2 separate regions of the Homo sapiens genome follow, and region 2 is linked to region 1. The links come from fine-mapping of genetic effects on gene expression. Tissue or cell type: whole blood. Region 1 holds a variant in brackets; the other region holds the start of a gene. All regions are shown on one strand. Distances are from middle to middle.

The links.
Region 2: it holds the start of SLC71A2, and the variant in region 1 is fine-mapped to the expression of SLC71A2 in whole blood (INTERVAL, PIP above 0.99).

Annotation. Positions count from the first base shown.
Region 1 is chr9:94,394,967-94,410,807 of GRCh38, forward strand. The region is part of intron 1 of SLC71A2 (solute carrier family 71 member 2); the gene reads left to right. Among named protein-coding and RNA genes, the nearest start is that of SLC71A2, 28 kb to the left of the region's middle. The variant T/A (reference allele first, on the strand shown) is at 8,586.
Region 2 is chr9:94,367,139-94,382,979 of GRCh38, forward strand. SLC71A2 (solute carrier family 71 member 2) reads left to right here and starts at 7,431. Exons shown (of 12, transcript NM_032558.3): 1 at 7,431-7,789. The coding sequence starts at 7,682. RefSeq lists enhancers at 7,199-7,700, 7,701-8,200, 13,232-13,311 and a silencer at 7,250-7,649.

The DNA.
Region 1 (15,841 bases):
GCAGTGGCGTGATCTTGGCTCACTGCAACTTCCACCTCCTGGGTTCAGGTGATTCTGCTGCCTCAGCCTCCCGAGTAGCTGGGACTACAGGCGTGCACCACCACACCTGGCTAATTTTTATATTTTTAGTAGAGAGGGGGTTTCACCATGTTGGCCAGGCTGGTCTTGAATTCCTGACCTCAAGTAATCCACCCGCCTCAGCCTCCCAAAGTGCTGGGATTACGGGGATGAACCACCATGCTTGGCCTTGTGGCAGTATGTTCAAATTAGGGAGCACTAGTTTTCAATTTGAATGTATTTTAGAATCATATTTTTTTGCTGTTTAGAAGTACAGTAGAGTCAACAGTTTAGACAGTTATATTCTTGATTTCTTAACTTGCTCATAAAAATAAAACTTGAATATTTCATTTTAAATAAGTTAGCATTGTGCAAAATGCCTATACATGATGTATTTGATAATAAGGGGATTTATTATTGCACATAAGAACTCCAGGAATAGAGTGCTTAGCACAGCAGCTTAATGATATTGCTGAGGACCTGGACTCATTATATTCTTATTTGCTCTTCCCAGTGTGCTGGCTTTGGATCTTCAGGATTGACCCCTTGTGGTCTCAAGATGACTGAGCAACTGTAGCATATCATTACACAGCAGTGCCCCCAAATTGGAAGTAAACTGTTTTGTTATGCGTCCCTTAGAGAGTGAAAAACCGTTCACAAGCCCTCCCACATGTCTTCCCTTATATCTCATTGACCACAGTTGGGCCATGTAGCTCATTCCTGTCTTAAATCATGGAATTATTATGGTTGAATTAGATTCATCTCCGGACCTAGTGAGCTCTCTGGCCTGCAGTCTCAAGATGGTGACCATGGTCAGCTTAAGCATGCAGTTAATGAAACATGAACAAAACTGAGAAGATGTTAGCAAGCGATCCTCCTCAGCCTCCTGAGTAGCTGAGGAGTGGGCAGTGTAGGAAGCCAGCCTTTTCTGCCACAACAAATGTCTGTTATCTCTGAGTTCAGGATACGTTTAGAGAAATATTACTAGAGCCTGTCTTTGAAAGAGTTGTGTATTATAGGAGGAGGATGTGTGCTAAATGGAAAAGAAGCTATAGGGATATGGCAGTGAAGTACCTGCCTCTGCTCAGGCAAGTCATGGGATATCCGCAGCTGCTCAGATAATAAATTATATGAGTATATTTGTGATATACCCATATAATTGGTATTTGTGAACTCTGCGTTGGGTTCTATTTATTCAAAGTGGAGTTGGCGCCAGGCGCAGTGGCTCACACCTGTAATCCTAGCATTTTGGGAGGCCGAGGCAGACGGATTGCCTGAGCTCAGGAGTTTGAGACCAGCCTAGGCAACATACTGAAACCCCATCTCTACTAAAATACAAAAATTAGCCAGCTGTGGTGGCACGCACCTGTAGTTTCAGCTACTGGGAAGGCTGAGGCATGAAAATGTCTTGAACCCAGGAGGCGGAGGTTGCAGTGAGGTGAGATTGCACCATTGCACTTCAGCCTGGGCAACAGATGGGGAGACTCTGTCTCCAAAAAATTAAAGTAAAATGAAAACAAAGTGGGGTGGGGTTGGCAAACTTTTTTTGTAAAGGACCTGGTAATAAATGTTGTAGGGTTTTTTTGGCCATATGTTACTCAGCTATGCCAGTATAGCACAAAAGCAGCCATAGACAGACAATATGTAAATGAACAAGCACTGCTAAATATCAGTGAAACTTTATAAAAATAAGCAGTGGACTAGATTTGGACTGTGGGCTGTAGTTAGCTAACCCCTGCTCTAATATATTTTTTTTCTTTTTTTGAGACGGAGTTTCGCTCTTCTTGCCCAGGCTGGAGTGCACTGGCAGGATCTCGGCTTACCACAACCTCTGCCTCCCGGGTTCAAGCAGTTCTCCTGCCTCAGACTCCCAAGTAGCCAGGATTACAGGCATGCGCCGCCACACCCAGCTAATTTTGTATTTTTAGTAGAGATGGGGTTTCTCCATGTTGGTCAGGCTGGTTTTGAACTCCTGACCTCAGGTGATCCACCTGCCTCAGCCTCTCAAAGTGCTGGGATTATAGGCGTGAGCCACCGTGCCCGGCCTCTAACATTTAATAGTACTAATTTTTCCTCTGTCCCTTTCTTTTTCTCCTTCAGGATGTTTTTATATTCTTGTCCATTTATTTTTTAAAATAAAACTTTTTTATAGAATAGTTTTATATCCACAGAAAAATTGCAGATAGCATAGAGTTTTCCTATACTCCATACCCATATTCCCTTATTATTAACATTTTACACTGGCATGGTACATTTGTCAAAATTAATGAGCCAGTGTCCATGCACTATTATCAGCTAAAAGCAGCCAGGCATGGTGGCTCACACTACTTTGGGACACTGAGGCCAGAGGATCACTTGAGACCAGGAGTTCAAGACCAGCTTGGGCATCGCTCTTCAAACAAGCAAAAATTACCAGGCATGGTGGTGTGTGCCTGTAGTCCCAGCTACTTGGGAGAGTGTTTGGAAAAAAAAAAAGGAAAAAAAAAATCCACTGCCAAAGAAAAAACCCCTAAAGTCCATACATACTTTACTGAGATTTCTTGTATTTTACTGAATGTTCTTTTTCTGTTCCAGTATCTCATGCTACTACATTACATTTAGTTGTTGTGTCTTCTTGGGCTCCTCTGGACTGTGACAGTTTCCTAGGCGCTCCTTGTTTCTGATGTCCTGGACAGTGTTGAGGAGGACTCATCAAGTGTTTTGTAGAATGTCTCTCAATTGAGATTAATCTTGTTGTTTTTCTCATGATTAGAGTGGAATTACGGGTGTTTGGGAAGAAGCCCATAGAGATGAAGTACCATTTTCATTATATCATATCAACAGTATGTGCCACTGTTGATGTTAACCTTGATCACCTGGCTGAGATACTGTTTATCAGATTTCTCCACTGTAAAGTTGCTCTTTTACCCGTTTCTATACTGTACACTTTGGAAGGAAGTCACTATGTGCAGCCCACGCTTTCAGAATGAGTAGTTATATTCCACCTACTTGGGGGCAGAGTGTCTGCATAAATTATTTGAAATTCCTCTGCATGGGAGATTTGCTTGTTCTTTTCTATTTAATCATTTTATCAGTATGAACTCATAGATATTTATTTTGTACTTTGGATTATCCCCAAATCCAATATTGCTTTATTTTCTTGTTCAAATTGTTCTAGCATTGGCCATTGGGAGTGCTTTGACATATATAACCCTATCTTTGTTTTTTTTTAAAACACTTATGTTCCTGGACCAAACTGAGAGTTGGGCTGCTACTTCTTAAGGCCCAATAATGAGATGCAGATGAACTGGGGAGGAAGAAAGTTTTTATTTCTGCAATGGGTTACAGGGAGAATACCTGGAAATTATCACCAGGCCAACTCAATATTACAAAGTTTCCGTAGCTTATATACCTTCTAAGTTATATGTCTACCTGTAAGTGTGCATTCATCTTAATGATTAACAACTTTTGGTCCATAACTAAGGTCTGAGTCTTGAAGACCTTCCTCTGGAGCCTCAGTACATTTACTTAATCTAAATGGGTCCAGGTGCTGGAGTGATTACCCTTATCTTGTCTCCTGCTAAATCACGGAGGTTTGGGAGTTCCTTCACACCCCAATAAACTTGTTTGTGGAGGCCTGGGAAGTTTCTTTAGACCCACAGTAAAACTTGTTTAATCCTAAATGGGCCTTAAGAATTCCTTCATTATTTTGTCATGCTTTAAGGCCCAGGAAAGGCCTAGGCAAAACTCTTGGTGGGCTTTTGTTAAATTCCAGCCTTTGCATAAGGGTACTGGCTCTTCCCCTCCCCCCCGTCGCGCCCTCCGAGATGGAGTCTTGCTCTGCTCTGTCACTGAGGCTGGAGTGCAGTGGGGCAGTCTTGGCTCACTGCAACCTCCGCCTCCTGCGTTCAAGCGATTTTCCTGCCTCAGCCTCCAAAGTAGCTGGGATTACAGGCACCTGCCACCACACCCAGCTAATATTTTTGTATTTTTAGTAGAGATGGGGTTTCACCATTTTGGCCAGGCTGGTTTCGAACTCCTGACTTCAGGTGATCCGCCCACCTTGGCCTCCCAGAGTGGCTAGGATTACAGATGTGAGCCATCGTGCCCGGCCGGCTCTTTCAGCTTTTAACATTTAACTTAACTACTCAGTCTGTACAGAAACAGTTGTTTTGGGGGCCTGAGTTAGTGAGACCTGGCTTGCCATGCTTATATTCTGGGATTACAAGATACTCCACGCTCCTCTTACATATTTCCCACTCTAGTCCCAGAATTAGCTGTTTCTCCAAGGAGCCCTGGTTTCTTTTATTTGAGAATGGCATTTGAAACCAAGATGTGTCACACTAGATATGCTTATTGCCGTTGAGTTTCTAGGGTGTAGTTTCTTTCAGGCTCTTTCAGCTGATAGAGTGTGAGGAAACAGGTGTATATAATACACACATTTGTAAGTATTTCCATTTGTGACCATCTGTATCTATATGAAGTTAAAAATGAGTTCATAATGATGTGCTCAACTCTAATCCATGATTACATGGATCATTCTTGCTTCCTTCTCTTGTTTATTTGTAACCTTCCACTCCAGCAGTGAGAAACCTGGCTTCCACCATCTGCCATCCAGTTTATTTAATTGGTCAGTCACAGCATACATGGTTCCAGAATTGTTAATCTTTATTTCCATGGGGTACAACTTTCAACTATAGCATAACAGTGTTTAAGTTACAGAAATGCCAGGTGGTCGATCTAGGTCTTGTTTCTCGCCACACAGAAAGCCAATCACTGAGGTGAGTATTGCCGGGGAAAAAGCCTTTTTTTTTTTTTTTGAGATGGAGTTTCGCTTTTGTTGCCCAGGCTGGAGTGCAATGGTGCGATCTCGGCTCACTACAACCTCTGCCTCCTGGGTTCATGCGATTCTCCTGCCTCAGCCTCCCGAGTAGCTGGGATTACAGGCGTGTGCCACCACGGTGGCCTGGCTAATTTTGTATTTTTAGTAGAGATGGGAGGTTTCCCCATGTTGGCCAGGCTGGTCTCAAACTCATGATCTCAAGTGATCCGCCCGTCTAGGCCTCCCAAAGTTCTGGGATTACACCCAGAGCCACTGCGCCCGGCCAGAGAAAAATTTTGCCTTTTTATTTAGGTGTTGCCTACTGAAGAGAATGGGAGATCAGTTTCGAATCTGCCTCCTCGACCAACTAAAACTGGGGAGTTTATGTACCGAAAAAAGGAATGTAACTATGTGTGAGGAAAACAGCAATTAGGAAAAGGATAAGGAAGCAGTCCTGACCTATGAGGGGAAAGAGGTGTCTGGGGTCTCATTGTCAAATGGTGATTTGGTGAGTTTCAGTCCGTTGCCTGAGGAAAGAACTCATTGGAGACAAATATAAGTTTTAGGTTTTAAAACTGGAAGGGTCAGTTTCTATGTTTATTCAAAGACCTGTACATATAATTTCTATGGGGAAATTGAGCCAGTTTCATTTATGCGCAACTTTTTTTGCCTCCAGTCTTAAAGGAAAAAAAAAAAACAACTGATAATATTTGTTGCCTATGATAAAATTCCAGCTTCCAAATGAAAAAAAAAAAAAGACTCCACTATTTCCCAGAGTTACTTGGATCACTGCCTTTCCCCATACCCCCTTTAGTGAGGTTGTTTCCTGTGTTTGTACTGCAATTAGATTCTTTTGCTACATTCTGCGTTCCATCCTGGGATTCTCCACCTCTGAAATGTTTTCTAAAAGTTAACATGTACTGAGGCTCACTCTTGTTCTCTGAAGTTCTGCTGGTTTTGAAAAATGCGTGGTGCCGTTTACCTATCATTAAAATATCATACAGAACAATTTTACTACCTGAAAGTGTCCTGTGCTTCATCCATTTAACCCTACCCTCCAACTCCAGCTACCACTGATCTGGTACTATCTATAGTTTTGCTTTTTCCGGAATGCCCTTTAAATGGTATCTTACACTTTGTAGCCTTTCAGACTTGCTTCTTTCATTTAGCAATATGCATTTCAGATCCATCCTTCTAACAATCTTGTTGTTTTAATTTGCATTTTAAAATGACAGTGACACATAATGAACATCTTTTCTTTTCCTTTTTTTTTTTTGAGACGGAGTTTCGCTCTTTCATGTGGGGTCAACTGCAATAGAAAAGAGGACCCTCAAACACAGGCTAATTTTTTTGTTGTTGTTTTTGAAACGGAGTCTCACTCTGTCACCCAGGCTGGAGTGCAGTGGCGCGATCTTGGCTCACTGCAACCTCCGCCTTCCGATTTCAAGCATTTTCTCCTGCCTCAGCCTCCCAAGTAGCTGGGATTACAGGCGTCCGCCACCACAACCAGCAAATTTTTTTGTATTTTTAGTAGAGATGGGGTTTCACCGTGTTGGCCAGGCTGGTCTTGAACTCCTGACCTCAGGTGATCAAGACCTGGGCCTCCCAAAGTCCTGGGATTACAGGCGTGAGCCACTGCGCCCAGCAATGAACATCTTTTTATAGGCATATTTGCCATCTGTATATCATCTTTGAGGAGACTGTTGCGGTCCTGTCACCCCTCCCCCTTTTTCTTGTTGACGATCGGGATTTATTACCTCATTTAACAAGAAATCTGATGGAAAGACAGTTCCAGGATTGGTCCTTGATTTTGCGTCAAGGACCAGGTTCTTTCCATCTTCAGTGTGTTGATTTGTCTGGCTCTCATGGTCTCAAGATGGCTGCCATAGTTCAGTTACAGGAAAGGGGTCCCAATCCAGACTCCAAGAGAGGATTCCTGGATAGACCTCGAACAAGAAAGAATTCAGGGCAAGTCCCTAAAGTGAAAGCAAGTTTATTAGGAAAGTAGAGGAACAAAAGAATGGCTACTCCATAGACAGAGCAGCCCTGAGGGCTGCTGGTGCCCATTTTTATGGCTGTTTCTTGATTATATGCTAAACAAGGGGTGGATTATTCATGCCTCCCCCTTTTAGACCTATAGGGTAACTTCCTGACGTTGCCATGACATTTGTAAACTGTCATGGCACTGGTGGGAGTATAGCAGTGACGATGACCAGAGATCACTCTCATTTCTGTCTTGTTTTTGGTGGGTTTTAGCCAGCTTCTTTACTGTAACCTGCTTTATCAGCAAGGTCTTTATGACCTGTATCTTGTGCTCCCTATCTTCATCCTTTGAGTTAGAATTCCTTAACTGTCTGGGAATACAGCCCAGTAGGTTTCAGTCTCATTTACCCAGCTCCTATTCAAGATGGAGTCGCTCTGGTTCACACGCCTCTGACAGTTCTAGGCTTCACATACAGTTAAAGTATTCCAGAGACAGAAAAAGAATCTCTGCTCTCTTTTCTCTCTATTGCATTTTAAAAATTGAGATACATTCACGTACCATACAGTTCATCATTTTAAAAGTATACAGTTTGGTTTTTTTAATATATATTCACGGTGATGTAGAACTACCACTATCTAATTCTAGAACATTTTCATCTCCCCCAAAAGAGTCCCTATATCTTTCCATTAACTGTCACTCTCCATCTCTCCCTTTTCTCAGATCATTTGCCCATTTTTTAATTGGGTTGTTGTATTAGTGACTTGTAAGGGCGCTTTCTATGTTCTTAAGTTCTTTATCAGATAAGATTGTTGCAGATACTTTCTTCCAATCTGTGGCTTATCTTTTCATTCACTTACCAGTGTCTTTTGCAGAGCAGAGGTTTTTAATTTTAGTGAAGTCCACTATATCAACTTTTTCTTGCATGTGGCATGACTTTAGTCTTGTACCTACAGACTCATCTTGAAACCATGTGACCAAGTTCACTTATATTTTCTCCTAATAATCCTCTAGAAGCTAATAGTTTTGCATTTTATTTTTAATGCATGATGTAGTTTGAGTTACTTATTTTTATTTTAGTGTATATGCATAACATAGTTTTTAAAGTTTCAGTTCAATAGCATTAAGTACATTCACATTGTTGTGTACTCATTACCACTATCTGTCTCTAGAATTTTTTCATCATCCCAAACTGAACTCTGTGCCCATTAAGCAATAACTCCCTAGCTCCTGGTAGTCACTATTCTACTTACTGTCTATGAATTTAATTACTGTAGGTACCTCATATAAGTGAAATTATGCCATATTTGATTTTTTGTGACTGGCTCCTTTCCTTTCCTTTCCATTTCCATTTCCATTTCACTCTCGTTGCCCAGGCTGGAGTGCAATGGCGCGATCTCGGCTCACTGCAACCTCCGCCTGCCGGGTTCAAGTGATTCTCTTGCCTCAGCCTCTCAAGTAGCTGGGATTACAGGCGCCCGCCACCACGCCTGGCTAATTTTTTTGTATTTTAGTAGAGACGGGTTTGCACCATGTTGGCCACGCTGGTCTCAAACTCCTGACCTAAGGTGATCCACCCACCTCGGCCTCCCAAAGTGCTGGGATTACAGGCATGAGCCACCGTTACCAGCCGTGACTGGCTTATTTCACTTACTACAACGTCCTTAATGTTCATCCATGTTGTGACAGTCAGTTTCCTTTTTTTTTTTTTAAGGTTAAATGATATTCCATTGTATACATGTACCA[T/A]ATTTTGTTTAAACATTCATAAGTTGAACACTTGGGTTGCTTCTACGGTTTGGCTGTTGTGAGAGAATTCTGTGAATTTGGGTATATAAAAATCTGTTCAAGTCCCTGCTGTTGTTTCTTTTGAATAGATAGCCAAAAGTGGAATTGCTGGGTCATGGAGTAATTCTATTTTTAATTTTTTGAGTACCTGCCAAACCATTTTCCATAGGGGCTGCACCATTTTACATTCCTACCAACAGTGTGCAAGGCTTCTAATTTCTTCATGTCCTTGCCAGCACTTATCTTCTTATTTAAGAAAAAAATCACAGCTGCTGTAGTCTGAATGTGTCTCCCAAAATTCATGTGTTGGGAACTTAATTCCCAGTGCAGGAGTATTGCGAGGTGGCGCCTTTTGGGAAGGGTTTATGTCATGAGGGCTACACCATTATCAATGGATTAATGCTGCTATTAAAAAGGGCTTGTGGGAGAGGGCTCATCCTCTTTTGCCCTTCCACCTTCTGCTTTGTGAGGATGCTGTAAGACTGTCCACCCCAGATGCTAATACCTTGTTTTGGACTTCCCTGCCTCCAAAACTGAGAAAATAAATGTCTGTTATTTATAAACTACCCAGTCTCAAGTATCCTGTTATAGCAGCACAAAACAGATTAAGACAGTAGCCATCCTAATGAGTATGTGGTGATACCTCATGGTTTTGATTTGCATTTCCCTAATGATAAGTGATGTGTATCTTTTCTTTTTTCTTTCTCTTTTTTGTTTTTTTGGGGGACAGATTTTTGGTCTGTCTCTTAGGCAGGAATGCAGTGGTGCAATCTTGGCTCACTGCAAACTCCGCCTCCCGGATTCAAGCAGTTCTTCTGCTTCAGCCCCCAGAGTAGCTAGGAACACAGGCATGCGCCACCATGCCTGGCTAATTTTTGTATTTTTACTAGAGACAGGGTTTCACCATGTTGGCCAGGGTGGTTTCAAATTCCTGATCTCAAGTGATCTGTCTGCCTCAGCCTCCCAAAGTGCTGGGATTACATACATACATGAGCCACCGCGCCCGGCCTATGTGTATCTTTTCATGTGCTTCTTGGCCATTTGTGTATCTCTTTTAGAGAGGGCTATTCAGTTTCCTTGCCTGTTTTTAATTGAGTTGTTATTTTGTCTGTGAGTTGAAAAAGTTTATTATATATTCTAGGTATTAATCTCTTATCAGATATGTGATTTGCATGTATTTTGTGCCATTCTGTAGATTGCCTTTTCACTGTCTTGATAGTATCCTTTGATATATGAAGGTTTTTCATTTTGATGAAGTTTGATTTTTATGTATTTTTTCTTTTGTTGGCTGTTCTTTTGGTGCCATATCCAAGAAGTCATTGTCAAATCCAATACCAGGAAGCTTTCCTCCATGTTTTCTTCTAAGGGTTTCATAGGTTTTGCTTTTATGTTTAGATTTTTGGTCCATTTTGAATTAACTTTTATATATGGTTTAGGGTAGCGATCCAACTTCATTCTTTTTAATGTGGATATCCAGTTTTTCCATCACCATTTGCTGAAAGACTGTCCTTCCTTTCTCATTAAATGGCCTTGGTACCCTTGTTGCATATCATTTGTGACATATATGTATTTACTTCTGGGCTTTTTATTTCCAGGCTTTTAATTTATTTTTTTAAAAGACTAGGCCGGGCGCAGTGGCTCATGCCTGTAATCCCAGCACTTTGGAAGGCTGAGGCGGGCAGATCACGAGGTCAGGAGATCGAGACTACCCTGGCTAACATGGTGAAACCCCGTCTTTACTAAAAATACAAAAAATTAGCCGGGCATGGTGGCGGGCGCCTGTAGTCCCAGATACTCGGGAGGCTGAGGCAGGAGAATGGCATGAACCCGGGAGGTGGACCACGCTTGCAGTGAGCGGAAATCGTGCCACTGCACTCCAGCCTGGGCGACAGAGCGAGACTCCGTCTCAAAAAAAAAAAAAAAAAAAAGACTGGGCTTTGCCATGTTGCCCAGACTGGACTTGAACTCCTGGGCTCAAGTGATTCTCCTGTCTAAGCTTCCTCAGTAGGTAGAAATACAGGCACACACCACCATGCCCACTTGGGCTTTTTATTCTGTTGGTCTACATGTCTGTTTTTATGCCAGAACCACACTGTTTTGATTGCCATATGTTTATAGTAAGTTCTGAATTCAGAAAGTGTGAGATAATTTTTTTTCTTTTTCAAGATTGTTTTGGCTTTTGGGGGTCCCTTAAGATTCTATATAAATTTTAGGATGGAGTTTTCTCTTCTTGCAAAAAGCATCATTGGGATTTTGATAGGACTGGCATTGAATCTGCAGATCACTTTTGGTAACAGTGATACCTTAACTATATTAAATCTTTAAATCCATGAACATGGGATGTCTTTATGTTTATTTATACCTTCTTTAATTTCTTTCAGCAGTGTCTTACAGTTTTAAGCATAGAGGTCATTCACCTTCTTCGTTACATTTATTCCTAAGTATCTTATTCTTTATGATGCTATTGCAACTTGAATTTTTTTTTTTTTTTTTTTTTGAGGCTGGGTGTCACTCTTGCCCAGGCTGGAGTGTAGTGGGGTGATCATAGCTCACTGCAAACTTGAACTCCCAGTTTCAAGTGATCCTCCCACCTCAGCCTCCTGAGTAGATGGGACCACAGGTGTGCGCCAGCACGTCTGGCTAAGTTTTTTGATTATTATTATTTTTTGAAACAGAGTTTCACTGTTGTTGCAGGCTGGGGTGCAGTGGCGCAATCTCGGCTCACCACAACCCCCGCCTCCCGGGTTCAAGCGATTCTTCTGCCTCAGACTCCCATGTAGCTGGGATTACAGGCAGGCACCACCACACCCAGCTAATTTTGTATTGTTAGTAGAGACAGGTTTTCACCATGTTGGTCAGGCTGACCTCAAACTCCCAACCTCACATGATCTGCCTGCCCCAGCTTCCCAAAATGCTGGGATTACAGGAGTGAGCCACTGTGCCCAGCCGTTTTTTGATTATTAGTAGAGACAAAGTCTCACTATGTCGCCTGGGAGGGCCTCAAATTCCTGAGCTCATGCTGTCTTCCTGCCTTGGCCTCCCAAAACATTAGGATTACAGGTGTGAGCCACTGGACTCAGCCCAATTTGAATTTTCTAAGTTTCATTTTAACATTGTTAATCTTTAGTGTATAGAAATGCAGCTGATTTTTAATGTTGATTTTGTATCTTGTAACTTTGTTAAATTCATTTATTAGTTGTAACAGGTTTTTTGTGTGTGGAATTTTTAGGGTCTTATGAGATCTTGTCATCAGCGAACAGAGATAATTTTACTTCTTCATTTCCAGTTTGGATGCCATTTCTTTCTTTTTCTTGCCGTATTACTCTGGCTAGAATTTCCAGTATTGTATTATACTGAATAGAAGTGGGGAAAGTGTGCATCTTTGTCTTGTTTCTGATCTTAGAGGAAAAGTTTCCAGCCTTTTTCCAGCCTTTCCCCATTGAATATGATGTGAAGTATGGGTTTTTCATATTTGGCCTTTATTATTTGAGATAATTTTATTCTTTTCTTAGCTTTCTAAGTGTTTTTATTATGAAAGTGTGTTGAATTTTGTCAGATGCTTTTACTGCATCAATTAAGATGATTATGTGGGTTTTTCCTCTTTATTTTAATGTGTTGTATTACATTGATTGGTTTTCATAGGTGAACTGTTATTACATTCTTAGAATAAGTCCTTGGTTATGGTGTATAACCATAATAAACTGCTTAATAAACTGTTGAATTTGGTTTGCTAATATTTTGTTGAGGATTTTTGCATCAATGTGCATAAGGAAAATTGGTCTGTAGTTTTCTTTTTTTTTTTTTTTGAGATGGAGTCTTGCTCTGTCACCCAGGCTAGAGTGCAGTGGCATGATCTCAGCTCACTGCAACCTCCGCCTCCCAGATTCAAGCAATTTTCTGGCCTCCGTCACCTGAGTAGCTGAGATTACAGGCACGCACTACCACGCCCGGCTAATTTTTGTATTCTTGGAAGAGGCATGGTTTCACTATGTTGGCCAGGCTGGTGTCGAACTCTTGACCTTGTGATCCACCCGCCTCGGCCTCCCAAAGTGCTGGGATTACAGGCATGAGCCACTGTGCCTGGCCCTATAGTTTTCTTGTAGTGTCTTTGTCTGGCTTTTTTAGAGTATGGCAGTACTCCCTGATCTGTGATTTTGCTCTCTGTGGTTTTGCTTTCCATGGTTTCAGTTACCCGAAGTGGGCTGAGGTTTGATAATCCTAAATGGAAAATTCCAGAAATAAAAATTCATAAGTTTTAAGTTACACGTCACATTCTGAGTAGTGTGATGAAATATTTTGCCATCTTCATCTTGCTCCATTCCTTCGTCCAGCATTTACACTCTATATGCTGCCCATCTGTTAGTCAGTCAGCCATCAGTTATCGGATGGACTGCAGTATCACAGTGCTTGTGTTCAAGTAGCCCTTATTTTATTTAATAATGACCAAAAGCACAAGAGGACTGTGCCTAATTAGAAATTAAACTCAATCATAGGTGTGTGTAGGAAAAAACAGTATATACAGATGGTCCCAAATTTGATGGTTGAACTTAAGATTTTTCAACTTTACCTTGATGCAAAAGCAATATGCATTGAGTATGCACCTCTACTTATGGTTGGGTTGTCTGGATAAGCCCATCGTAGGTTGAATATATCATAAGTCTAAAGCGACTTTCAAGTTAGTATATTTTCAACTTACAGTCGGTTTATTGAGACTTAACCCCTTTGTAAGTCGAGGAACAGCTGTATAGGGTTTGGTACTTTTCGAGGCATCCACTAGGGATCTTGGAATGTATCCTCCTTGGATAAGGGGGCAACTACTGTAATGCTGGCTTCAAAGAGTGAGTTAGAAAGTGCTCTCTCCTCTTCATGTCTTGGGAAGAGGTTTAATTCTTAACTCTGCTGGAATTCTGGGAGGTTTTTGATTACTGATTCAATCTCCTTACTAGTTATAGGTCTATTTATATTTTCTGTTTCTTCATGATTCATTTTTAGTAGGTTATGTGTTTCTAGGAGTTTGTCCATTTTGTTTCATTTATCCAGTTTGTTGGCTAATTGTCTATGAGACTCCCTTATAATCCTGTTTCTGTAAGGTTGACCATTATTATCTTCTGTTTCATTTCTGGTATTAGTAATTCAGGTCTTCTGTTTTCTTGGTTTGTCCATTAGTTTGATATTTTCATTAAATCAATTTTGGTTTTGTTGATTTTCTCTTCCCTTTCCTTTTTCTGTTTTTTTTGTTTGTTTGTTTTTTGAGACGGAGTCTCGCTCTGTCACCCAGGCTGGATTGCAGTGGCACGATCTCTGCTCACTGCAAGCTCCCCTGCCTCCTGGGTTCAAGCGATTCTCCTGCCTCAGTCTCCCAAGTAGCTGGGACTACAGGCATCCGCCACCACGCCTGGCTAATTTTTTTTATTTTTAATTTTTAGTAGAGATGGGGTTTTACCATGTTAGCCAGGATGGTCTCGACCTCCTGACCTCGTGATCCGCCTGCCTCGGCCTCCCAAAGTGCTGAGATTACAGGCCACTGCGCCCGGCCTCCTTTTTTTTTTTTTTTTTTTTTTTTTTTAAGGCAAGGTTTCACTCCCTTCTCCCAGACTGGAGTACAGTGGTATGATGATGGCTCATTGCACCCTCAACTTCCTGGACTCAGGCGATTCTCCCACTGCAGCCTCCCAAATAGCTGGGACTATAGGTGTATGTGCCACCATGCTTGGGTAAACTTTTTCTTTTTTGTATTTTTAGTAGAGACAGGGTTTCACCATGTTGCCCAAGCTGGTCTTAACTTCTTAACTCCTGGGTTCAAGTGTTCTGCCCACCTTGACCCCCCAAAGTGCTAGGCTCACACTGCACCCGGCCTGATTTTGTCGATTTTTCTGTATTGCTTTTCTATTCTGTATCACGTTTGTATCTGCTCTGATCTTTCTTTCCTTGCTTTGAGTTTAGTTTGCTCTCTTCTAGTTTCTTACAGTGGAAAGTTAAATTATTGATTTGAGATCTTTTATAACCACACATCTACAGCTGTACACTTCCTGTTAAGCGCTGCTTTAAGCTGCATTCAACTGGTGTGTTACATTTTCATTTTTGTTCAAATGAAAGTTTTGTAACTTTCCTTGTGATTTCTTTTATCTGTTATTTAGGAGTATGTTTAAATATTTTAATATTCATGAATTTTCCAAATTTTCTTAAGTTAATGATGTCTAATTTCATTCTGTGTGGTCAAGAACATAGTTTGTATAAATTAACTCCTTTTAAATTTATTCAAACTTGTTTTACAGTCTTCTCATGTGCACTTGAGGATTTATATCTTGTTGGGAAGAGTGTTCAATAAATGTCTGTTAGGTTTAGTTAGTGTTCAGTGTTACTGAAGTCTTCTATTTCTTGCTGATCTTCTAATTGTTCTATCAGTTACTGAAAATGGGTATTGAAGTCTCCAGCTATTGTTGATTTGTGTATTTGTGCCTTTTATTTTTAGAGAGTATTGATGCCGGTAGGTGAGGACGATGGCTTTTTTTTTTCCTAAACGAGACTGGAGTCTCACTTTGTGGCCCAGGCTAGAGTGCAGTGGTGCAGTCATAGCTCATTGTAGCCTTAAACTCCTGCACTCCAGCGATCTTCCTGCCTCAGTCTCCTGAGGAGGTGGTACTACAGACACATGTCACCATGCCTGGTTAATTTTTAAATTTTTTGGAGAGATCGAGTCTCACTGTGTTGTCTATACTGGTCTTGAACTCCTAGCCTCAAGTAAATCTCCCACCTGCCACCTGAGCCTCACAAAGTGCCAGGATTACTGGCATGAGCTACTGCACTGGGCCTATTTTTTTCCCCCCCTAAGAGATGGGGTTCTTGCTGTGTTGCCCAGGCTGGACTTGAACTCCTAGGCTCAGGTGATCCTTCCAAATAGCTGGGACTACAGGTGCACACCACCGCTCCTGGCTGAGAATGATAATTTGATGTTGCATTGTATAAATGTTTTTAATATTGATTCTAAAGGGGTCCTATAAATCAATATGAAAGATTAAAGTCACCAATAAAAAATTGACAGAAGATGAACAGGCAGTTCACAGAAAAAGAAACGCAAATTCCTAATCATAGGAAAGAAGCTCAGCTTCATTGGGAGTAAGGGAAATACAAAATAAAATTAAATAACCATTAAAAAAATCAAATTAGCAAAAATTTTAAAATTATTATTATTTGAGATGGAGTCTCACTCTTTCCCC
Region 2 (15,841 bases), 28 kb before region 1:
TTTTAGAAAGACCATTTTTTTCCCCAAACTTTTAGGTTCAGGGGTACATGTGCAGGTTTGTTATATAGGTAACCTAGTGTCATGGGGGTTTGTTGTACAGATTATTTTGTCGCCCAGGTACTAAGCCTAGTACCCAATAGTTATTTTTTTGAATCCTCTCCCTCCCCCCACCCTCCACCCTCAAGTAGTCCCCACTGTCTGTTGTTCGCCTATTTGTGTCATTGAGTTCTTATCAATTAGCTCCCACCTATAAGTGAGAACATGTGGTATTTGGTTTTCTGTTCCTGTGCTAGTTTGCTAAGGATAATAGCCTTTAGCTCCATGAGTGATCCAGCAAAATATATCATCTCATTCTTTTCTATGGCTGCATACTATTCCATGGCATGTATGTACCACATTTTCTTTATCCAATCTGTCATTGATGGGCATTTAGGTTGATTCCATGTCTTTGCTATTGTGACTAGTGCTGCAGTGAACATTCACATGCATGTGTCTTTATGATAGAATGATTTATATTCCTCTGGGTAATATACTCAGAGATGGGACTGCTACGTTGAATGATAGTTCTGTTTTTAGCTCTTCGAGTAATCGTCACAGTGCTTTCCACAATGGTTTGCACTAATTTACACTCCCGCCAACAGTGTAAAAGCATTCCCTTCTCTCTGCAACCTTGTCAGAATCTGTTATTTTTTGACTTTTTAATAATAGCCATCCTGACTGGTGTGAGATGGTATCTCATTGTGGTTTTGATTTGCATTTCTCTAATGATAAGTGATATTGAGCTTTTTTTCATATGTTCATTGGCCGCATGTATGTTTTCTTTTGAAAAGTGTCTGCTCATGTCCTTTGCCTACTTTTTAATGGGGTTGGCTTTTTTTTCTTGTTGATTTGTTTAAGTTCCTTATATTAATAGAGCCTGGATGTGAGACTTTTGTCAGATGCATAGTTTGCAAAAACTTTCTCCCATTTTGTAGGCTGTTTACTCTGTTGACAGTTTCTTAACTATGTAGAAGCTCCTACATTTAATTAGATCCCATTTGTCAATTTTTGCTTTTGTTACAATTGCTTTTGGTGAGAAAGACTAATTTTGTGTGAAGAGTACAATGCATAAGTGGAAATGAACCCAAAGATGTACAGCAAACTGCTGAGAAATGGGAAGGGTATGAACTAAGGCAGTAAGCAGGCATAGAACAATCTGACATATAAAATAAATAGGGCACAACAGTTGCTTTGATGGAGTGGTGAAAGAGATAGGAGGTGAGAAAGGGCATAAGCAAGATTTGATCATTGACTATGCGAGGGTGACAAGGAAAAAGAGGGGCTGACCTACATCAGCAATTCCTGCTTCTGGCATAGAGATGGTATCACTTCTGTTGCGAAGACTACAGGGACAGCAGGCAGCATGCTGTATATATTTCTAGCATGTGAAACGGAAGTAGGGCAAGGAAAAAAGTCCTTACGTTCCTACTTTTTACATGGTTCACACACATTGTAGAATAAACCCTTTGCCTGGGTCACGTAAAATTCTACCTTTTTATTATTATTATTATGCTTTAAGTTCTAGGGTACGTGAGCACAGCGTGCAGGTTTGTTACATGGGTATACATGTGCCATGTTGGTTTGCTGCACCCATTAACTCATCATTTACATCAGGTATTTCTCCTAATGCTATCCCTCCCCCTGCCCCCCAACTCACAACAGGCCCCCATGTGTGATGTTTCCTGCCCTGTGTCAAGGTTTTCTGTCCTTGTGATAGTCTGCTCAGAATGATGGTTTCCAGCTTCATCCATGTCCCTACAAAGGACATGAACTCATCCTTTTTTATGGCTGCATAATATTCCATGGTGTATATGTGCCACATTCTCTTAATCCAGTATATCATTGATGGACATTTGGGTTGGTTCCAAGTTTTTGGTATTGTGAATAGTGCCACAATAAACATATGTGTGCATGTGTCTTTATAGTAGCATGATTTATAATCCTTTGAGTATATACCCAGTAATGGGATCATTGGGTCAAATGGTATTTCTAGTTCTAGATCCTCGAGGAATTGCCACACTGTCTTCTACAATGGTTGAACTAGTTTACACTACCAACAGTGTAAAAGCGTTCCTATTTCTCCACATCCTCTCCAGCACCTGTTGTTTCCTGACTTTTTAATGATCGCCATTCTAACTAAAATTCCACCCTTTGTATAAAACATTTGCCCGGTCCATTTGACTCTGAATCACCTTGGTATGTATAATTGCCAAATATACTTTTTTTCCAGATGGCAATTCACATCTGCCTTTTAGCTTAGTGCTGAATGGAAGGCAAATAATTGAGGAGGTTCAGTAAGGATAGTTCTCCATTAAAAACAAAAGAAAAAAAAAGAGAAAAAAAAGCGCCAACCTAACTGAATACTCTCAGATAGGACTGATAATGCATTGCAAATACTGAAAACAAGTTTTCATTAGAACATTATCTTAAACTAAAATCTGTTGCCAGTCGCAGTGGCTTACCCTTGTAATCCCACCACTTTGGGAGGCCAAGGCGAGCAGATCACCTGAGTTCAGGAGTTTGAGACCAGCCTGGCCAACATGGTGAAACCCCATCTCTACTAAAAATACAAAAGTTAGCCGGGCGTGGTGGTGGGCACCTGTGATCCCAGCTACTCAGGAGGCTGAGGCATGAGAATTGCTTGAACCTGGGAGGCGGAGGTTGCAGTGAGCTGAGATTGTGCCACTATACTCTAGAGTGACAGAGCGAGACACCGTCTGAAAAAACAAAAAAATTATCTAGGTGTGGTAGTATGTGCCTGTGATCCAGCTACTTGGGAGGCTGAGACAGGAGAATTGCTTGAGCCCGGGAGGTGGAGCTTGCAGTGAGCCAAAATTGCACCACTGCGCTCCAGTCTGGGCGACAGAGCAAGAATCCATCTCAAAAAAAAAAAAAATTATCTGGGTGTGGTTGTATGCACCTGTAATCCCAGCTACTTGGGAAGCTGAGACAGGAGAATCGCTTGAGCCTGGGAGGCAGAGGTTGCAGTGAGCCAAAATTGCACCACTGCACCCCACACTCCAGCCTGGGTGAGAGAGCGATATTGCATCTCAAAAAAAAAAAATCTGTGAAAATAAGTTTATCTTAACACATTGTTATAATTGCAATTACAAAGTAGTGCTCGGAACAAACAAAATTAAGTGAAGTGTGTTTTAAACATTTAGACAATTATCGTAAGACAGTTTGTTATCCTTTCACACAGGGAACAGTAGACGGGTGGAGAAACAGCAACAAAGATACCATGTGAAGGTATTGCTTTATACACCTTGGCTTGGATCTGGGCCATGCAGGTGCCAGCTCTGGATTTCCTTCCCAGCAGACAACTGCCAGTACAAGGAGACTCACAGACATTATTGAACAACCCAATTGCATCATACTTTAAAAAAGATTCAAATTATATATAAAAAGTGATGAATTCAATACCACTTCCCCCTTTCTGTTGATTACAAATTGACCACACAAGGGAATATTTAGGGTCTTGTGGCAGTAGATGCATAACTACCTATTTCTCTTGAAGTCCTGGTCTCAAGTGATCCTCCCACCTCGACCTCCCAAAGTGCTGGGATTACAGGCCTGAGCCACTGCACCTGGCCCATCCATTTGTCAAAATCCACAGAACAATACACTGCAGAGAGTTAACTTTATGCAAATTAATGTGGGATCTTAGGATAGAATGGCCAGCACGACAAATGAACTTAATTATATTACAAAGGTATGGCATAACCTCACCAAAGTGAGTGGGGAAAAAATAAATTGAGTAAATAAATAAAAGTTTGATTGATTACTCAATCAAAAAAGAATTGATTTGAGTAAATAAGAAAGAAATTGAATTGATTTGGAAAACTGTTTTGACTGGCTACTTTCAGGATAAAAACAAAAAGAACCGTACATAAACACTGTAGTTGGAAAACTTGCTTCCACAGAGTTAGAAATTCTGAAACTACATGTATTGTTAACACACACACACACACACACACACACACACACACACACACACACAAGTAGAGAGAGAGAGAGCACAGCACCCAGATCCATATCATTGCTGGGAGAATTAGTGGTGCTGCCCATAGACTCTACTCAGAAAGGACAACTGGAAGCTTGTGCGTGGTCTCTCGTGGACTCTGCTGCCTCTTACCTTTGCTATTTTCATCTGTATCCTTTCACTATAATAAACTGTAACTATGAGTAAAATAGCTTTTTGGGGTTCTTCTAGTGAATCATTAAACCAGAGGATAGTCTTGGGGATTAAAGACTCTCAGTTATTAGATACCCTATTTTAGCATTAAGTTTAACCCAATCTTAAAATCCAGCTTTAAGACCAGATGATTAATTTATTTAAAGCGAAAAATCTCAACAAAAATATTAAATAGAAATCAGCAAGGCTAGGCACGGTGGCTCACGCCTATAATTCCAGTACTTTGGGAGGCTGAGGTAGGAAGATTGCTTGAGCCCAGGAGTTGGAGAACAGGCTGGGCAACACAGTGAGACACTGTCTCTACCAAAAATTAAAAAGGTAGCCAGGCATGGTTTTATGCACCTGTGGTCCCAGCTACCCAGGAGGCTGAGGTGGGAGGATCACTTGAGCCCAGGAGGTCAAGGCTGCAGTGAGCTGTGATCGCGTCACTGAACTCCAGCCTAGGCGACAGAGCAAGACTCTGTATCAAAAAAAAAAAAAAAAAAAAGATCAGCAAATTGTTTGAATTTCTCCTCTTAGGAAAAAGAACTGTATTAGCATATGTTACTCTGATATAGCTGATATGGCAATATCAACCATCAAAGATATAATGGTATACTTATCTGGTATAATTTATAAGTTTGCCTCAGTAGAATCACAGCCTATTCTGTAGTTAAAAATATACACTGCTAGTATTATAGCAAACTTTAGTGGCTTTTGTGATAAAGAAAATAAACTTCAAAAAACTCCATTATTCCCTCTAGGATAACTTTATTGTAAGTCTATTTAAGAAAACAGTCCAGGCTGGGCATGGTGGCTCATGCCTGTAATCCCAGCACTTTGGGATGTTGAGGCAGGCGGATCACTTGAGGTCAGGAGTTGGAGACCAGCCCAGCCAACATGGTGAAACCCTGTCTCTACTAAAAATACAAAAATTGGCTGGGTGTGGTGGCAGGTGCCTGTAGTCCCAGCTACTCGGGAGGCTGAGGCACCACAATCGTTTGAACCGGAGAGGCAGAGGTTGCAGTGAGCTGAGATCGCGCCACTGTACTCCAGACTGGGCAACAGAGCAAGACTGTCTCAAAAGAAAACAAAAAAACAGTTTACAAACTTTTCTGTTTCATGGATACAGGAATCAGAAACTGATACCCAAGCTCATAAGTGGCATAAACATAATACTCAAACAGCATAACATAATACATATATTCCCTCTGTGTTTTGAAAACTATTTGTTAAAACAATCATTCAGAAAAGTAGACAAATCAGGCTGGGTGTAGTCGCTCACGCCTGTAATCCCAGCACTATGGGAGGTCGAGGCGGGTGGATCACCTGAGATCAGGAATTCGAGAACAGCCTGGCCAACATGGTGAACTTGTCTCTACTAAACATACAGAAGATAGCCAGGTCGTGGCATGCACCTGTAATCCCAGCTACTCGAGAGTCTGAGGCAGGAGAATTGCTTGAACCCAGGAGGCACAGGTTGCAGTGAGCCGAGATCGAGCCACTGATCTAGGCTGGGCGACAAAAGCGAAATTTCGTCTCAAAAAAAAAAAAAAAAAAAGAAAAAAGACCAGGCCGGCTCGGTGAGCCGAGGGGGGCGGATCACTTGAAGTCAGTAGTTCAAGACCAGCCCAGCCAACATGGTGAAACCCCGTCTCTACTAAAAATACAAAAATTAGCCGGGCATGGTGACGCGCACCTGTAATCCCAGCTACTCGGCAGGCTCAGGCAGGAGAGTCGCTTGAATGCGGGAGGTAGAGGTTGCAGTGAACCTAGATCACGCCACTGATCTAGGCTGGGTGACTGTAGCCTGGGTGACAGAGCAAGACTCTGTCTCAAATAAATAAATAAATAAATAAAAGTAAAGACTTCTGCAAAGTGTGTGTGTGTGTGTTTGGGGGTAGTGGGTGGGAAGCGAAAAAGAGGCTTTTTTTTTTTTTTTTTTTGGAGACGAAGTCTCACTCTTGTCACCCAGGGTGGAGTGCAGTGCACCATCTCGGCTCACTGCAACCTCCGCCTCCTGGGTTCAAGCGATTCTCTTCCCTCAGCCTCCCAAGTAGCTGGGATTACAGGCATCCGCCACCATGCCCGGCTAACTTCTGTATTTTTAGTAGAGACGGGGTTTCACCATGTTGGCCAGGCTGGTCTGGAACTCTTGACCTCAGGCGATCCGCCCACCTCTGCCTGCCAAAGTCCTGGGATTACAGGCGTGAGCCACCACGCCCAACCTGAAAAAATTCTTAAATGAAATGACTTTAATTCAATTAAAATTACTAATCCTGTTAATAGAAATAATTTTATTCTTTTTTCTATTGATGTTTGTAAAAAGATTTTTTTTTTTTTTTTGTGAGACAGAGCCTCACTCTGTCGCCCAGGATGGAGTGCAGTGACGCTATCTCGGCTCACTGCAACCTCCGGCTCCCAGGTTCAAGCTATTCTCCTGCCTCAGCCTCCCGAGTAGCTTGGATTACAGGCGTGCGCCACCAAGCCCGGCTAATTTTTTTGGTGTTTTTTGTTTTTGTTTTTGTTTTTTAGTAGAGACAGGGTTTCACCGCGTTGGCCAGGCTGGTCTCTAACTCCTGACCTCAGGTGAACCAGCCGCCTCGGCCTCCCAAAGTGCTGGGATTATAGGTGTGGGCCACCGCTCCAGGCCTGTAGGCTTTTTTATATTTCAGTATTAGGTGCATATCTTTCAAAATAAATAAACATAAGCCAGGCTTTTCCAACTGCGTCCTACACATTCTACAAGATATTAATCATGTGTCAAGAATAAAAAGTGTTGTGTTCAAGTACGTTTGGGAAACATTGCTAGTATATTATTTTCTTCTTAGAGAACCATAGAAAAACTTGAGAGGTTGGCGGGTTGGCGCAAACCAAGACCAAAACTGAACTGCAATCACTACCAAACCCCCACGAGTTTGCCCCTCCCCGCTTGCTAGCCTCAGTCCAGATTCTCCGGAAAAAGAAATCAGTCGTACGGGCTCTCGAAATGACGTACTTCCCGCGCGCCGCGAAGTCCTGATGCCAAGGGGCCAGTCGCGAGGTAAAGGAGGGGTCTCTGAAGTGGGCGTGGCGTCGCTGGAGGCTACTCAGGCGCGGGACTCGTTCTCGAGGCGGGAGCTGAGGTGCGGGGCGGGGCCTCCTGCCCGGCGCCGGCCTGTGGGGAGGCGGGGCGGGGCACAGTCTCTTAACCGTGCAGCCCGCCCCTGACGCCGCCGGTAACTGCGAGAGTCGGGGTCGGTGCGGTTTGATAAGTGGTCGGTTCCTGGAGCTGCGGTCTTCTGCTAGCCTGATCCGCAGCTTCAGCCTCCGCCGCCTCCTCAGCCCTCGGCGCCGCCGCTGGCGCCGCCGCCTGACCCGCAGGCCGCCGCGGGCCGCAGAGCCCATGAGGGCGCGGGCACCGCCGCCGCCTCCGCGGCGTCGCCGTCGTCCCGGAGCGCCCCGGGCTGGCGCGGGCATGGCCGCGGCATGAGCGTGGAGCCGCCGCCGGAGCTGGAGGAGAAGGCGGCGTCGGAGCCCGAGGCGGGAGCCATGCCGGAGAAGCGCGCGGGCGCGCAGGCCGCGGGGAGCACCTGGGTGAGCGCGGGCGCGGGGCCCGGCTGCCTGAATCCCGGGGAGGCTGGGTGGGGTCGCACCCAGGGCCCGCGAGCCCGCCGCTCCGGGCAGGGGCTTCGGCTCTTGGAAAGTCGGTCCTTTTCTGGGGGGGGAGGCGAATTCATCACGAATACAGGTTTTTCCTAGTGACTGCTCATCGCAGACAAAACTTTACAGGATTTGGTTATTGTTTCAAAAGGCGCTAGACATGGGACAGTGAATATAAGTAGTAATTTGGTTATTTCGGAGTTCTCCGTCCCTGTAACAGTTGATAACAGTTTTCCTGGCGCAGTTTCTCTCCAAGTCTACATGGAAAACAGGTAGGGAGCATTTGAATCAGACCGTCGACGGGGAAGTTGGCGGCAGATGCCGGGCAGCGCCTTGCTGCTCCTTCCGTGTTCTCCCGGCGTCGGAGGGGCGGTCCTAGCGATGGGGAGCAGAGTTTCCAGGGGCGTTGCTGGGGACCAGCCGAGGAGCAAGTTAGGCTGGCCTCTTTCTCCAGTTTTACTTTTGCTTGAGGTCGAGATGGCTTCTGACAATGATACAGAAGCAATTGAGCCCTGACTTAACTGGCCTGGTTTCGGCAGAACAGGCCTTGTCTGTGTCAGTGGTTTCATATGGTGCAATATTAAGCCTAGAGGGTTTGTCGTTTCTTCAAGGCCTAAGTTTAAAAAGGATTTTTTTTTTTTGGTCTTAGGACCTGAAATATAGAGAATGTTACAGTGAATAGAAACTGACACAATGGGAAAGTTTTTCCAAAGAAAAGTAGAAATTTTATGGAAATTAAATACATGTTTTTGGCTTTAGATTTTTAGCTTACATATCTGATTTTGTGTTTAGTTGAAGAATGCTAAGTGTTTACATGAACGTATTTGGGGATGTAAATCCCTATTAGTAGGTTGGGAGGGCAGCTGAAGCAGAAGGAGCAGTAGGTAGAACGGATCCGGCAGAGCTGGTTTTTAGTCCTGGTTTTGCCTGAACAGTGCGCACTCTGGACAGGGTATTGAAACAGCCTTGCCCCTCAGTGCCTCCTCTGTAAAATGAGGACTTAGTTGAAGTCCCCTCCCAGCCCAAGTGACTCCCTATTTTGAAAAGCATTTCAAAGTTAAGATCTCTGTAATATGAGAAGCTTATTTTGTCGAGGGAGAGAAATTCTGTATAATTGCTTGCTCTCATTTTGATTCGCGTTAAGTAGACTTGTCCTCTTCCTGCTTGCTACACAAAACTAAAGCACCAGTTCCTCCTCCTGTCTCATGAATTGATGGACAGTAATTACTAACCAGTGGCCCAGCTAGTAACCTGCGAGGTAGCTTCCTTCATCCCTTCCCATACTTAAAACAATCAGAAAGTCTAGCTAAGTTTATTAGATACAGATTTTAGGTTTTTATCCTCTCCTATGCATTCTTATGCTCAGAATTTCCTCAGCATTTTTGACCCAGACTTTGACTATCTCTTTCAAGACCCTTGCTCACCCCAGCGTCAGTCCACCTTGCACGTGGCTGAGTAGTGTGTTCTAGCATGTAAAGATGATCATTACTGCTGTCCTTAATTTTTTTCATTGGCTCCTTATGGCTTACAGAATAAAAAAATAAATTGGCAGGTTGAAGCATTATTAGTATAGTGATTAGACGAGCATGCTTGAAATCCCAGTTTCCACAGTTCGATAAGTTAACGTAACTCCTGATTAATAATGGCATTTACCTCAGAGGGTTGTGAGGGTTGCTGCAACTTGGCATCTAGTAAGCCCCTTAATACATACTAATGTTGTTAGTATTTTGTAATATTCTTTGCATGTATGATTGAATGATCACAATCTATAGGTGATCTGACCGTGATAAAAGTAGTTGTCTCCCATTTCCTAGTGTTGACAGGAACTAGACCCCAACCTAGAAATTAAAGTTGCTAAATTTGTGTGCTTAAGAGCAGAAACTTGCGAGGGATGTTTACTCAAAGAAACCTAGACTCAGTTTATTCCCCAGTTCTTTCTCCGTTGGATCCTGATGGTAACCTAATTTTGGGCACAGGTAGATTCCTGCCTGGTCTTTCCTCCTCTCTGAGAACGCATGGAGTTGATGTTAATTGTGATGAATACTGAGTTTTCTTGGTGTTTGCTGTAGATAGTGAGAAGGCTAGCATGAGCAGGTAGCAGTGTTTTTCTGAGTGTGTGGACGTTGGGAGAACAGTGAATGCTTTTAATCATATATGTTTGTGTCATATGCTAGTACCCCTGAATTATGTGTTTTTCCTGTTTGCAGTTTCTAATGTCACCTCCGGGTGCTGTGTCCTATAGCCCCTATATGAATTGATTTCATTTTAATGTGTTGGAATTTCCTTACAGCTTGGTTTCAGTGACACTCATGATTTCAGGTTCTTAGATGCTACTAGTAATCACAGGGAAGATTGTCCAGCTGATAACTTTTTTCTTTTTTGTTTTCTGTGTTTTTTTTTTTGAGATAGGGTCTTGCTGTCATCCAGGCTGCAATGGCCAGTCATGGCTCACTGCAGCCTTAAATTCTTGGGCTCAAGCAGTCCTCTCACCTCAGCCTCCTGAGTAGCTGGGACAACAGATATGTGCCACCATGCCTGGCTTTTTTTTTTTTTTTTTTTTAATTTATTTTTTGTAGAGATGAAGTCTTCCTGTTTCCCAAGCTGGTCTCAAACTCCTGGGCTCAAATGATCCTCCTGTCTCAGCCTCCCAGTGCTGGGATTATAGGTTAGAGCCATGATGCTTGGCCTGACAACTTTTTTCTACCTTATTTGGCAAAGAGATATATTGACCAGAAAAAGATACTGGCAGAGAGATGTCATAATCTGAAAAATAAAAGAGAATCAAGTATTTACTCCAAGAGATCATTTCCTTCTAGAAAAGGGAGGTGTGTCGCCGGGCACGGTGGCTCACACCTGTAATCCCAGCACTTTGGGAGGCTGACGTGGGCGGATCACAAGGTCAAGAGATCAAGACCATCCTGGCCAACATGGTGAAATCCTGTCTCTATAAAAATATAAAAGTTAGCTGGGCATGGTGGCAGGCGCCTGTAGTCCCAGCTACTCAGGAGGCTGAGGCAGGAGAATCGCTTGAACCTGGGAGGCGGAGGTTGCAGTGAGCTGAGATCGTGCCACTGCACTCCAGCCTGGCGACAGACTGCACTCCAGCCTGGCGACAGAGCGAGACTCCATTTCCAAAAAAAAAAAAAGGAGGTGTATGTTAGCTGTTTGCGTTGCTGTAAAGGAATACCTGAGAATACCTGAGACTGGGGAATTTATCAAGAAAAGTGGTTCTTTAGGCTGTACAGGAAGCTTAGCACCAGCATCTGTTTCTGGTGAGGGCCTCAGAAAGCTTGCAATCAGGACAGAAGGCGAAGGGGAAGCAGCTTATCACGTGTTGGGGAGGGAGCAAGAGAGAGAGGGGAGGAGGTGCCAGGCTCCTTTTAGCAATGAGATCTTGGCCGCGTGCGGTGGATCACTTAAGGTCAGCAGTTGGAGACCAGCGTGGCCAACATAGTGAAACCCCATCTCTACTAAAAATACAAAAATTAGCCGGGTGTGATGGTGCATACCTGTAGTCCTAGCTACCTGGGAGGCTGAGACAGGAGAATTGTTTGAAACTGGGAGGCGCCACTGCACTCCACCCTGGGTGACAGAGTGAGACTCTGTCTCAAAAACAAACAATAAACAAAACCAATCAGATCTTGTGGTAACTAATGGAGCGAGGACTCACTCATTACTGTGAGAAGGACACCAAACAATTGAGAAGAGATCAGCCCCCATGACCCAAACAGCTGCCACTAGACCCCACCTCCAACACTGGGGGTCACATTTCAACATGAGATTTGGAGGAGACAGATATCCAAATGCTATCTGCCTTAAAAACAAATTGGATAGTTTGGTTTTCTATTCTGTGGAAGAATTTGTGTAAGATTGGTAATACAGTTCTAGAACTTTATAGTTCTTGGCCTTTTGGAGATTAATTCTAGAACAGCGTAGGTTTTCTGTTTGATTTTTAGTTCTGTCAGTTTCAGTAAGTTGTGTTTTGTTGGGAATTTGCCCATTTTATCTAAAATGTCAAATTAGTTGGCATAAAGCTGTGAATAATGACCTCGTAGGCTCTTTTCACCTTCTGTAGGGATTCTTGGTGTGCATTTCCTTTTTTTTTTTTTTGAGACGGAGTTTCACTGTTGTTGCCCAGGCTGGAGTGCAATGGTGTGATCTTGGCTCACTACAGCCTCTGCCTGCCGGGTTCAAGCGATTCTCCTGCCTCAGCCTCCCATGTAGCTGGGATTACAGGCTTGTGCCACCATGCCCGGATAATTTTGTATTTTTAGTAGAGATGGGGTTGCACCATGTTGGCCAGGCTGGTCTTGAACTCCTGACCTCAGGCGATCCACCTGCCTTGGCCTCCCAAAGTGCTGGAATTACAGGCGTGAGCCACTGCGCCTGGCCCTTTTTTTTTTTTTTTTTAAGAGGTGAGGCCTCACTCTGTCATCCAGGCTGGAGTGCGGTGGCGCACAATCATAGCTTGCTGTAACCTTAAACTCCTGGGTTCAAATGATCCTCCTGCCTCAGCCTCCCTAGTAGCAAGGACTATAGGCACGTGGCACTATGCCTGGCTAGTTTTTAAATTTTTTTGTAGAGATTGGGTCTCACTGTGTTGTCCAGGCTTGTCTTGAACTCCTGGCCTCAAGTAATCCTCCAGCCTCAGCCTCTCAGAGTGCTGGGATTATAGGCATGAGCCACCATGCCTGGCTGGTACTCTGCATTGATAACTTGTGCTTTGTCTTTCAAAAAATATTTAATTTTGTAGGATCTTCTGGATAAATATTCACAAATATTGCACGTGTTGATAATTTTATATCTTATTTTGATGTTAAATGAACTAGAATATCCAGGAAAGTATTCAATGGTAATGGTAAAAGTGCATACAACCTCCTCTACGTAACAGGAATACATTAATTTTTTCTTACTGTTAGGTATCCTTTTGGCTGTATACACGTAAACATGCTTTATTACCCTATGGAAGCATTTTTGAAATTTCTCAGTTTCAGCTGGACGCGGTGGCTTACGCCTATAATCCCAGCACTTTTGGAGGCTGAGGCAGGCGGATCACGAGGTCAGGAGATTGAGACCATCCTGGCTGACGCGGTGAAACCCTGTCTCTACTAAAAATACAAAAAATTAGCCAGGCGTGGTGGTGGGCGCCTGTAGTCCCAGCTACTTGGGAGGCTGAGGCAGGAGAATGGCGTGAATCTGGGAGGTGGACCACGCTTGCAGTGAGCAGAGATCGTGCCACTGCACTCCAGCCTGGGCGACAGAGCGAGACTCTTTCTCAAAAAAAAAAAAGAAATTTCTCAGTTTCTTACATGTGTTCTCTCTTCCCCTTTTCCTCTTCCCTTCCTCCAGTTCAGCATGTCATAGAACTTTCACAAGTGGTTATGAAATCTTAGATATGCTATGGAGAAAGAGGTTATGGCATAGCAAGAGCATTGTTCTGTGAGAATTGGAGAGAAATCTATTCTTAATGTGTATTTATTTATTTATTTTTGAGACAAGAGTCTTACTGTTTCATCCAGGCTGGAGTGCAGTGGTGTGATTATGGCTCAGTGCACCCGGGAACTCCAGGGCTCAAGTGATCTTCCTGCCTCAGCCTCCTGGTAGCTGGGACTACACGTACGTCCCATCATGCCTGGCTAATTTTTAAATTTTTATTTGTAGAGATGTGCTCTTGCTTTGTTGTCCAGGCTGGTCTCGAACTCCTGGCTTCAAAGAATCCTCCTGCCTTGGCCTCCCAAAGCATTGGGATTGCAGGTGTGAGCCACTGTGCCCAGCATTAGTCTGACTTTTTTATAGTTAGCTTTGTATTTGCTTGTCTTTTTTAAACAACCTTATTCAGTTTAATTGACATAAAATAAACTGTGTGTTTGGAGTGCACAGTTTTGTGTTGTGACATATCTATACACCTGTGAAACCATTATCATAATCAAGATAGTAAACATATTCATCACCCTCAAATGTTTCTTTTTACCTCCCTCTACACCTCCATTTCCAGGCGATAATTTATCTACTCTGTCACTATATATTGGCTTGAATTTTCTTCCCCCTTTTTTTTTTTTTGAGATGGAGTTTCACTCTTGTTGCCCAGGCTGGAGTGCAATGGCGTGATAACGGCTCACCACAATCTCCGCCTCCTGGGTTCAAGTGATTCTCCTGCCTCAGCCTCCCAAGTAGTTGGGATTACAGGCATGCGCCACCATGCCAGGCTAATTTTGTATTTTTAGTAGAGACGGGGTTTCTCCATGTTGGTCAGGCTGGTCTCAAACTCCCGACCTCAGACCATCCGCCCGCCTCGGCCTCCCAAAGTGCTGGGATTACAGGCGTGAGCTACTGCCCCCAGCTGGTTTGAATTTTCTAGCTTTTTTTTTTTTTTGTTATTTTATAAATACAGCATATTCTCCTCTTTGGCTTTTAAAAAGTTCAGCATAAATTATTTTGAGATTTATCAGTGTTATGTAAATCGGTAGTTCATTCTTTTTAATTACTGAGTAGTAGTCCATTTGTGGATGAACCACGATTTGTACATTCCCTTGTTGATGGACTTTCGGCTTCTCACCAGTTTTTGGCTATTACAAATAAAGCTGCTGTGAACATCTGTGTGCCAATCTTTGTACAGAATACACTTTTTTAAAAGTAAATAGGAGTGAAATGGCTGGGTCATATGGTAGATGTATTTAACTTTTTAAGAAACTGTTGGCTGGGCATGGTGGCTCATGCGTGTAATCCCAGCACTTTGGGAGGCCGAGGCAGGAGGATTGCCTGAGCCCAGGGATTTGAGACCAGCCTGGGCAACATGGTAAGACTCCGTCTTTAAAAAAATAATAAAATAAAATAAATTGCCAAACTAATTATTTTAAAAGTAATTGTACAGTTGTACATTGCAGCTAGCACTGTATGATAATTCTAGTTCATCCATATCCTTACCAACACCTGGCCAATTTTAGCCCTTCCAATTGGTCTTTAGTGATGTCTCATTGTTCTTTTAATTTGTGCTTCCCTATGGCTAGTGGCATTCAGTATCTTTCCATAAGTTTTTTTTTTTTTCCTCCTCCGGCAGAGTCTCACTTTGGTTGCCCAGGCTGGAGTGCGGTGGCGTGATCTTGGCTCATTGCAGCCTTGACCTCCTGGGCGCAGGTAATTCTCCCACCTCAGCCTCTCGAGTAACTGGGACTACAGGCATATGCCACCATACCCAGCTAATTTTTTAATTTTTTATAGAGATGGGGTCTTACTATGTTGCCCAGACTGGTCTTGAACTCCTGGATTCAAGTCGTCCACCTGCCTCAGCCTCGCAAAGTGCTGGGATTACAGGTGTGAGCCATGTGCCCAACTTCCCTAAACTTATATGTCTTCTGTATATCCCTTTTGGCAAAGTGTCTGTTCTTGTCTTTTGCCTATTTTTTGTTGTTGTTGTTGGTTGGTTGTTTTCTTGTAATTGAGTTTTGAGAATTCGTTACATATTTGGGATGCAAGTCCCTCGTCAAATGATTTGCAAATACATTCTCTCTAGGCCGTGGTCCATCTTTTCATTCTCTCAGCAGTGTCTTGAAGAACAGGAATTTTAAATTTTGATGAAATTTATCAATTTGCTCTTTTATAGATCAGGGTTTTGGTTTCATATTTAAGAAATTGTTGCCTAATCCCAAATCATAGGAATTTCCTTCTATTTTTTCTTTTTTTTTTAGACGGAGTCTCTTTCTTTGTCGCCCAGGCTGGAGTGTAGTGGCACAATCTCTGCCCACTGCAATCTCCAGCTCACTGCAATCTCTGCCTCCCGGGTTCCAGCGATTCTCCTGCCTCAGCCTCCCGAGTAGCTGGGACTACAGGCATCCGCCACCACGCCTGGCTAATTTTTTGTATTTTTAGTAGAGTTGCAGTTTTAGTAGAGGCGGGGTTTCACCGCGCTAGCCAGGATGGTCTCAATCTCCTGACCTCGTGATCCACCTGCCTCGGCCTCCCAAAGTCTGGGATTACAGGCGTGAGTCA